2 separate regions of the Homo sapiens genome follow, and region 1 is linked to region 2. A link means that fine-mapping ties the variant in region 2 to the expression of a gene that starts in the linked region. Tissue or cell type: testis. Region 2 holds a variant in brackets; the other region holds the start of a gene. All regions are shown on one strand. Distances are from middle to middle.

Region 1 (5,392 bases), 40 kb after region 2:
ATCTTGCTGCTGTCACCCTCAATATCTCTGTTTACCAAGAGGTATTCACAATCATTTTGTTCTACAATGTGAAAGTTCCTTTATCAGAAATCTTATACCTGGAGAGTTTTGTATTCAAAACTAGACTGCTCTTTAATGTGCCTCTCAGCAGACACAGACATCTCAGGCAAATTTTTAAAATAATTAAATGGCATTGGCTTTGAAAATGTCATGATTACTAGCCCAGTGCTTAAGAAGCATGTGCACTTAACATCCTGCTGACACTCCAAGCATTCATATTTGTCAGAAAAGCTCTAACCTATGAAGATACACTATTGAGTATGACCGTAGAGGTAGTGGGAAGGAGACTTTAGAGGTAAACTGTCAGATTACAGATATTTCATCTGTGTTCAACATGAGACAGGATTGTAAGACACGACTTCTCCCTGACATTGACTACAACAGCAGAGAAATGCAGAGAAATGCTTTTCTCTTTCAACATTCCTTACATCTGGGCTTCATAACAGACTGGCTATTCTTTTCAGCATGTTCATTTTATAAGATCTCAATTTTTTTCCTCTAGTAAAACAATAGCACTTTAAAATAAATTTAATTCCACAGAAGACTCCCAAGAAGGCTTAACAAAATCTTTGCAATCACAGAAACCTGTCCTGGAGCTATAGGGTGTTCTTATTTTGGTAGGTGAATAAGAAATTTTTTTCTTTTCTTTTCTTTTTTTATGAGACAGGGTCTCTCTCTGTCATCCAGGCTGGAGTACAGTGGTACAATCATAGTTTACTGCAACCACCAACTCCTGGGTTCAAGTGATCCTCCCGCCTCAGCCTCCCAAGTAGCTGAGACTACAGGCACATGGCACTATGCCTGCTAATTTTGAAAAAAATTTTGTAGACATGTGGTGTTGCTATGTTGCCCGGGCTGTCTCTAATACTCCTGGCCTCAAGTGATTCTTTTGCCTTGGCCTCCCAAATTGCTGGAATTACAGGCATGAGCCACTATGCCTGGCCGAATAAGAAATTTCTAATGGCTGCACACATCTTTGAAAGAGCTGAGACATTTCAGGAACAAACTCGTGTGATACAGCCCATCACCTGAACCTTCCACTTGCCTACCTATTAGTCTTCTTTTGGAAGATGAGAGATTTTTCTCAGTGGTTAGTTAACTTTCCCTTAAGCATAAGTAATTTTCTAAGCCCCTTCTTGGTATCTCACTCCCTCCGTAATTGATTAACATTAAAACAGGGGCAGTTACAAAAGCTCAAGTCTAGCATTTCAATGTTACTTTGGGAGACGCTGCATTGATAATATTGACGACAATCATTTCTCAGAGGACCTCTAAGAACAAATATTTAAAAATGGACTTGGACTGAACAATAAACATAGGACTTGTAGGTCCAAAGTAACAATAGCTTTAAATTATGTATACTCAATAAGTCAATTTTAAAGAAAACATTGGAAAACCAATGGTAATGCTTTAGTTGATGAATGATTTATATTAAATGTAAAAATAGGGATTATAATTTTATATAACATTCTTACGGACATTTCCAAAACCAATATTCTGGTAATTTTTTTGTCCCCAGTTCTGTAAAATAGTTCTAGAAAGAAACTATTTCTGTAAATTGACTTAACATATTAAATGGGAACTTTGGAGGCCAGGCGCGGTGGCTCACGCTTGTAATCCCAGCACTTTGGGAGGCCGACGCGGGCAGATCACGAGGTCAGGAGATCAAGACCACGGTGAAACCTCGTCTCTACTAAAAATACAAAAAATTAGCCGGGCGTGGTGGCGGGCGCCTGTAGTCCTAGCTACTCCGAGAGGCTGAGGCAAGAGAATGGCGTGAAACCGGGAGGCGGAGCTTACAGTGAGCCAAGATCGCGCCACTGCACTCTGTCTGAAAAAAAAAAAAAAAAAAAACGGAACTTTGGCTGGAATCTCAGCTAGGTCTTATACTATGGAGATCTGTCCAGGTGGATTTTTATACTTCTCAAGGACTAGAACCTTCTAAAACAGTAGTTGTGGAAGTAGTTGTATGCTACAGTCCATTATTTCTAGAAAATTTGTGAGATATATTCTAGTTCTAACTGGTTCATAAGAGTATTGAAACAAAAGAGGTCAAGCATGCCATCATTCCTCCTCTATAACTCAGCTCTAACTCTGCTTCCATCGCATCTATGCATGCTCACTGTTTTTGTTTCTCATTCTTATCTTCCTGCTCATGGACTTTATTCTGCATTGCCTTCGAAGCTTCCTGAATGTCTTGTGTATCTTTCATCTTGGCTAGAAAAGAAGTCTCTTTTCTTTCCTAGGAAAGCAGATCATGACATCAGATGACGAATATGGCTGAGGTTCAAGGCAGATTTTTCTTTTCAAAGTGACCTCACCTGTTAATCCAACTACCTTCAAGCATCAGCTAGGTTTAATAATTTCTTTACCAAACTAGTACCAGAACCACAATTCTCATGAGGATATGTAAGTACCAACATAGCCAATCCTGATCTTGGCTAAGGATGTCGGACAAACCATGGTGCAGGTGTGTAGCATTCACTGGAAGCAGCTTGAGAGGGCAGTAACTTGGCAAAGAGACCTTTATGACTACAGTTGTTGCTTCTGGCCAACACTGCCTCTTAGAACTATGAGGTAATGTCTCCATAGTAACCAAGTTCCAGTTTCTGAACAATTCCTATGTTGATGCTGTACCTTCTTTGCAGTTTGCAGACATTAAATAAAGTAATTTGCTCTTAGGAAAGCCATATCTTCCACTAGACTTTGCCACCAAAATTATTGATATCTTGTTTTGTATTTCTAAGAGTCAAGGCCAGTATGTACATACTGGGGAAATTAATCACAACTCTTTTCTTCTTTTTTTTCTTTCTCTCTCTCTGGACAAATACTTTGAGCACATGGAAACAGCTAGGCAGCAAGAATAGAAACCATAAAACTTCAATGCAAAAAGAAGTCTATTGGTAGAAATCATAAAATCAAAGCCAGAACACCTAAATTCTTCTCCTAGTTATGCCAGCAGTATGATTTAGAAGAAATCACTTAATTCAGTTTCTCCTCTGTGTAAAACACTCACACTTAATGTTTCATGATAATGATAGTATGGCAATAAAATTAATAACTATGAAAGTACATGATTATATACAGTAATAAGATATATAAATGATGATTACTGGATGAGTAAGCTTATTAAAAATAGTTAATAAGATTCTACTATTTCTTAAAAACTGGCTAGGTACCATGAATAAACAATACCTGCTTTCAGAAATAATACTAAAATATCTTCTAATATAGATTTGAAAATGATTTTTAAAGACAATAAAGTAACTGTCTTAAAAAGCCAAAAAGAAAAAGTCAAGACGTGTAACACGTAATAAGGTAAGTTAAAAGGAAGTAAACGTTTGACCGTATTTCCTCCCTCTCAGAGATGAAGCACAATTCCTTATGAACATTATGGGCCAATTATGTAAATATAGCATCAGAAGGTTTATAAATTTTTACTTACGCTTAGTAAAGAATTAAAAATGGGCTTGTCATTTCTTGTCACTCTCCCAGTCTCCCTACCTGTACCAGTCTGGATGGCTTTCTAGCTGTTAAAAATTTCTCTACTTGAACTGCATATATTAGCATAAAGTCGTTATGACCTCATTGGTTTTATCAGAGAGCCTGCTCATATTTTCCAACATATTTTGGAGAAATAAAATTCTGTCAGCTGAGAAAAACTTTTGAAGGCTTTGAAGTTGTGAGTGTTTCAATACTCATTCCCCATAGTAGACATTTTTCTTATTTCCTTTTCTTAAATTACTGTATATATGCAATGAAAACCAATTTCCTCTTTTGTTGTTGCTTAAACTAATTTAGTGGTTTTCAACAGGGGCCAAAGTGAACCATAGAGAGCATTTTGTAAATGTAAGAGGATGTTGATAGTAGTCATTAAAGATTCGGGTCGGGTATTAGTGGCATTTGGTAGACAGAACCCAGAGATGCTAGACTTTCCACAATGTGGCAGATAATCCTACTTAGTAAATAGTGTTCCCACATGACACGTGCCTTTCTAGGCATTCATGCAGGTGAAAAATAGATTACAATTATCTGGCCAGGCACAGTGGTTCCCACCTGTAATCCCAGCACTTTGGGAGGCCAAAGGGAGTGAATTACTTGAGGTCAGGAGTTCAAGACCAGTCTGGCCAACATGATGAAACCCCGTCTCTACTAAAAAAATACAAAAATCAGCTGGGTGTGGTGGCGGGTGCCTGTAATCCCAGCTACTCTGGAGGCTAAGGCAGGAGAATCGCTTGAACCGGGGATGTGGAGTTGCAGTGAGCTGAGATCGTGCCACTGCATTCCAGCTTGGGTGACAGAACCAGTCTCCGTCATTAAAAAAAAAAAAAAAAGATTAGAATTATATGAACCTAAAGCCTAGCTCTATATGTCATATAAATACAAAATATTTTTGCAGTTTTAGTATATACCAAAGTCTTTAGGATGTAACTATTTATTGTTTAAATTCCGGAAAGACTCTATATTGATTTGTTCAGACGTTTCCAAGAGTTATCAGTTTGGAAAAAATTACATCACCAATAGCAATACAACTTGGTAGTATTCATGTGGTTGATACAACTTATTGGACAGAGAATAACAGTAGCAATAATACCATCAGCAGCAACAAAATCAACCTGAATCTGATGAATCCTCTGCTTTACATGTAATACAGGAAACAGAAGAGCACATTAGCTAATCAACTAAGAAATTTAAAAGACACTTTTTGTAATTTGTGGATATAACATATCCTAATTCAAGCAAACTGTAGAAATTTATAAGACAGTAGAAACTTAAGCACATGGTACTTAATGATATTAAGGAATAACTGGTAAATATTTTAGGTGTGATATGGTGTCATGATTATGTTTTTTGAAAAGGGTTCTTATCTTTTAGTGATACATACTAAAACATTTATAGATAAAATGATATGACGTCCTCTGTTTCTAATGAATACAGACAGTAGGAAGCAGATGAGAATGTAGATGAAAAAGTTGGGCCATGACTTGTAATTATTAAAGCTGAGTAATAGTTACATGGAGATTCATTATAGATTATGATTATTTTTGACTGCAAATATCTAAGTTCTCCATAGCAAAAAGACTAAAATAGAAGCCTCAGTTTGGGATGCACAGACTCAAATGTTAATGGTGTCATCAACATGGCTGTGTCTGCTCAGGAAGGAGAGGGTCAGCAAGAACTGAAAGGAAGAAGCAGAGGTGCATGAGGTGCAATAATCTTTTTTTTTTTTTTTTTTTTTTTTTTGAGATGGATGTCGCTGTGTCATCCAGGCTGGAGTGCAATGGTGCAATCTCGGCTCACTGCAACCTCTGCCTCCTAGGTTCAAGTGATT
Region 2 (5,392 bases):
ATTTCCTTAGTGTGGATTTGCCATTAATGAATCCTTCCAGTTTTTTTTTTTTGTCAGAAAATGTCCTTATTTTACCTTCACCCTTTCAGTTATATTTTTCCTCAATATAGAACTCAGGATTAGAAGTTCTGCTAGCACATTGAGGCTATCATTCCATTATCTTATGACTTCCATATTTTGTTTTCTGAAGTTTTATTATGATGTACATAGATGTGGTTTCCTTTGTATTTATGCTGCTTGGGATTTATTATTATTCTTAATTCTATGGCTTGATGTCTTTGTATCAGTTTTTGAGAATTTTTGCCATTATTTATTTAAATATTGTTTCTGTCCCAACCTCTCCATCATCTCCTTTTGGGATTCAAATTACAACTCTACTAGACTTACTTGTGCTCAGTCTTTCTCTCTAATCTTTTTTTGTTGTTCCTTTCTTTCCTTATCCTTTGCTTCCTTACTGCTTATTTTTTTCTAGATTTGGGGATATTTTGTATTCCATTTTATTTTTTATATTCCTTCTAAAATTCTCATTAAAATACCAGTCTAACTCTATGAGATGTCATTTAAAAATCTTCGGTGTCTCTTTTTCAGTCTGTCCTTCAGTATACACATATTAACTCCTATGTGTCATGTACTGAGTTTGGTGCAAGTGACAAAAAGACAAGCAAAATAAAAGCAATTTAACACTTATAGTCCAGAGATAAAAGAGAATTTACAATACAGTGCAATAAATGCTTTGCTTGGTGAGTGTAAGATATTACTGAGAACACATATTAGGAGCAAAAAACTCATTTGGTGGGGACCAGAGAGGGGTTCTTTGGAGATAGTGACATATAAGTGAAACTTTAAGGATGAAAAAGAATTATCCATGAAAAGAGGAGGGGTGAAAGAATGTGTGAAGGCCTGGAGGTAGTCAGGGTGTGTTTGAAGAACTGAAAGAACTTCAAGATGATTAAAGCATAGAATGCAAGAAGGAGAATGTGTGATGAGATAGGACAGCCCTGGCTCAAAGATACTTAAACAATTTTATGGATTTGGACTCCACCATGAGGGCAATGGGGAGAAAATGAAGATTTTTAAGTAAGAGAAGAAATGTTTAGGATACCTAAACAAGATTGATTATACTTGGGAGTTGAGGAAGGAAAAGGAGTAGAGAAAGACCGTTAGGATACCTCAGGTTTCTGAATGGCATTCACTTATATAAGGAAAATCAGTGGAATGACAGACTTTGAAGGAAAGACAATGATGAGTTGTTCTGAACATTCTGAGAATGAGACACTTGTAGGGCATCCAACTAGAGATTATAAGTAATTAGCCTCATAAATCAGAAGTTCAGAATAGAATGTTGGGCTGGAGATAAAGAGTTTGGAATCTTTCCTACTCCATTTCATTTTTCACATTGCTTTTAAAATTCTCTTTTAAACACAGATCTAACTATATGAGACTATTAACTATAACTATTAACTATTAACTATAACACCTATTTAAAATCCAATTGTTGCCTCGTCAGTATTTTCATAATACAGTTGAAACTCTAACATGGTGGTGTACAAATACCTCTAACATCTAGTCCTTACCAAACTTTCTGGACTAACACCTCAATTTCTACTTATATTTCAGTCGGATACAATTTCTGTCTGTTCACTGAACCCAAAGTTTATTCTTGCCTCCTTGTGCTTTTAATATGTACTGTTTCTTCTACTCAGAATGCTTTGCCCCCCCTCTTTTCAACCTGAATAACTCCTATTCGACCTTCAATACCTTAGTTCCAATGCTATCTCCCCTGAGCCTTTTCCATTGCTCTCGTCTTTTCATAAATATTTCTAAAGCAATGTTTCTTAAACAGCAAATCTTTCCCTCTCTATTGGTTATGAAATAAATTTAGAAGGTCATGGCAAGTATTTTAAAATGAAATAAAAGAGTAGGAAATATCAGAATCTGTCATACTTAGAAAAATCAGTATTGTCTTTTGCAACATTTGCTTTGGTTATATAGGTTTGAAATACATATTTGCAGCTACAGCTGAGTTTTTTGAGCTTCAACAGTTGACAGTGGAAAAATGTTTGAATTTGAAGTTAGATTTGCATTAAGCAGCAAAAAACGAGACAATAGCAAAAAGAAAAAATATCCCTAGTTCATGGATGTTGCTTTAGGGAGCAAAGGAGGGGAATAGGACTAGGACTAGAAAAAGAAATCTAGGAGACGTTTGACATGTAATGCTTATTTTAAAAAATAATTAATGCAAATACGACAATGTATTAATATTTTTCATTTGGGGAAGTGGGTAGAGAAGTGTCTTTTTTGTTCTTTACGTATTTTATAACATTAAAAAAAGATTCAAAAGCGGAAAATTTTCTAGCTCCATCACTTACTAAATTCTTATTTGTGAAGTCGAAATAATAGTGGAATTTATAAGGAGGTGAAAATGTTTCCTCTTGACATCTGCTGTCAAATTCCTCTTAGGATAGGGGGAGGATACCTTACCAGGCTTTTGGTAGAAGGTATGGTGACTCCTGAAGCTATGGGAGTGAGAGCTTCTGAAAGAGACAAAGAGGGCAATTATGGCAAGAGCTTTGGTAGTGCATGGGGTAAGGGGCCAAGGGTAATCCCTCTTGGGGCCAGTTGAAAGGATTCTTAGGAGAATCTACTCACAATTTTTTTTTTATGGGGGGGGGCTTTAATGAAACCTCTTCTCATGACTCCCAAAACATCAGAAACATTTATTGCCCATGAGTGGTTTCTGGCATTTTAGTTTGTTGTGAACACCGAGGGGCAGGATGAGTGTCACATCGTATTTAATCCTTTAATAATCCATAGCCACAAACTTAGCTAGAGGCCCTGTGCATTTGATCTGTATTATACTGAATAAAATTCCTAACCGCCTACATTGTAGAATTCAG[A/G]ACATTCCCCCAAATTTGTGCTAATTCCCACAGGAACAAATTCTCAGCAAAATGAATGCTCAGTGGTGACTTTCAGCACATCTTCCACTAAGATGCATCCCGATTAAAAATATGAATAAGACAAAGTTGGCCATGCTCATTGGAACTATCTCGCATTATTGCCAATGCAATAATGCAAGAACACGATATAAATTTATAAGCATTGGAAAGAAAGGATGTCATTTGTACACAATTACACAATACAGAGGGGAAAAAACAACCCATGTGGCCAGGCACAGTGGCTCATGCCTGTAATCCCAGCACTTTGGAGGGCCAACACTTGAGGTCAGGAATTTGAGACCAGCCTGGCCAACATGGCAAAGCCCTGTCTGTACTAAAAATACAAAAATTAGCTGGGTGTGGTGGCGTACACCTGTGATTTCAGCTACTCGGGAGGCTGAGGCACGAGAATCACTGGAACTAGGGAAGCAAAAGTTGCAGTGAGCTGATACCGTGCTACTGCACTCCAGCTACAGTGAGAGAGTCAGACTCTGCTTCAAAAACAAGCAAGCAAACAAACAAGCAAACAAACCCATGAGACTACAAGCTATCAAAACTAAAAAGTTCAGAAAATTTGTTGAAACAAAAGCAATATACAAAGATAATTTTCCTCTTCTTTAAAAAAGTGAAAAAAAGTTATAGAAAGAGATAGCATTTTCAAAAGCAGTAGCAACAATAATAACAAATCAATACACCTGCCTGGGTGAGAAATCTACAAACGATATACAAGAATTTTATGGAAAAAAATGAGAAAATATCAATGAAAGCCATGAAAGAAATCTGAATGAACTGACAATTGATTTCATATACCATGACTCAGTATCATAAAGGTATCAACTCTCAACATGACCTTTAAAATTCTTACCATTTTAATCACACTACCAACAAGATGGTTTTTCTATGTGAAACTTGATAAAAATGATTCTTGTAAAGAGGAGTAAAAAGTTTAAGAAAAGCCAAATCACACTGAAAGGGAAGAGCAAGAAGAGAGCAAAAGAATGATTACGTACCAATAACAACAGGAACAGTGTTATTGGCACAGTGATAGATCAATAGAACAGTCTAGGGAGCACAGACCCAGACCCAAGCATAGGAGGGAGGTGGTACTAGAAATCAGTGTGCACGTGATGGACACACTCTCTGGTGTTGAGACAAATGGTTTTCCATATCGAAGAAATCTGAGGTCACTATTTCATACCATACATAAAAACAACTTCAAATATATTAAAGACATATACAAAAAGCAAATTGGAAAAACTATCATAAATAAATATAAACACACAATGTTCTCACTTATTTGTAGGATCTAAAAAGTAAAACAATTGAACTCATGGACATACAGAGTAGAAGGATGGTTGCCAGAGGCTGGGAAGGGTAGTGGGGGATTTGCAGGGCAGGGAGGTAAGGATGGTTAATGGATACAAAAAAAAAAAAGAAAGAATGAATAAGACCTACTATTTGATAGTACAATAGGGTGACTACAGTCAATAATAACTTAATTGTACATTTTAAACTAACTTGAAGGGTGTAATTGGATTGTTTGTAACTCAGAGGATAAATGCTTGAGGGAACGGATAATCCCCAAAAATTAATAAATATAAGCACATAACTTTATTATTATGAGAATTATTATGAGATAGGGAAAGATTTTTTATTTTTTTACATATGAAAATATGCACAACACCACTATTAAAGAAGAACTTCACATTAAGATAATGAGTTACTAGTTAATGTCCATCAGATTGGCACATAATTTAAGATTCTGGCAATATAAAGTTAGGTGAGAATAAGGGGAATGGGAAATATTTTACTATGTTGGTGGGAGTATAAATTAGCAAAATTCTTCCTAGAGCAGTTGAGCAAAATCTAATAAAGTTGAAGATACAGGTACCATACAACTGAATAAGTACATGTAGGAATTTTAGAAGATTTTAAAAGTTTAGGTATGAACCCCAAAGGAACCTTTGTATGTATGCACAAGTAGACTTGCACAAGGATAATCATTGCCGTAGACATAACATTTTCTTGGATGCATTCAAAGACTTGGTAAATTTTTTTTTAAGTAAAAAAGAAAATTAAAATATTTAAAAATTTTTTCATCTATATTATTGACGAGAAAAACATTAATAGGGGAATAAACAAGATACAGTAAATTTGTATAATAAAATACTACATAATGGTTAAAGTGACTGAATTAGGTCTCTCTATATTACTATAGTTAAATCCCCCAAATTACAGTAAGTCAAAAAGAGCTGGCACATTTAGCATGATGCCATTTATGTAAATTAAAAATACACAAATTATTTTAAATATATATATATGGATCCATATGCATGTAAACAAAGTATAAAATGAGAACCAGAATGATTTATTCCAATATCAGATCAGAACTGCAAATACAATTAAAGGGAACTTCAAATTTATGAATTTTTCTTTTTGGTAATGTGAAACAATAC

What was found.
Region 1: LMNTD1 starts here. The variant in region 2 is fine-mapped to the expression of LMNTD1 in testis (GTEx, PIP 0.94).

What each region holds. Positions count from the first base shown.
Region 1 is chr12:25,550,688-25,556,079 of GRCh38, forward strand. LMNTD1 (lamin tail domain containing 1) reads right to left here and starts at 2,596. Exons shown (of 10, transcript NM_001145728.2): 1 at 2,382-2,596; 2 at 2,184-2,302. The coding sequence starts at 2,272.
Region 2 is chr12:25,510,202-25,515,593 of GRCh38, forward strand. The region is part of intron 8 of LMNTD1 (lamin tail domain containing 1); the gene reads right to left. Among named protein-coding and RNA genes, the nearest start is that of LMNTD1, 40 kb to the right of the region's middle. The variant A/G (reference allele first, on the strand shown) is at 2,898.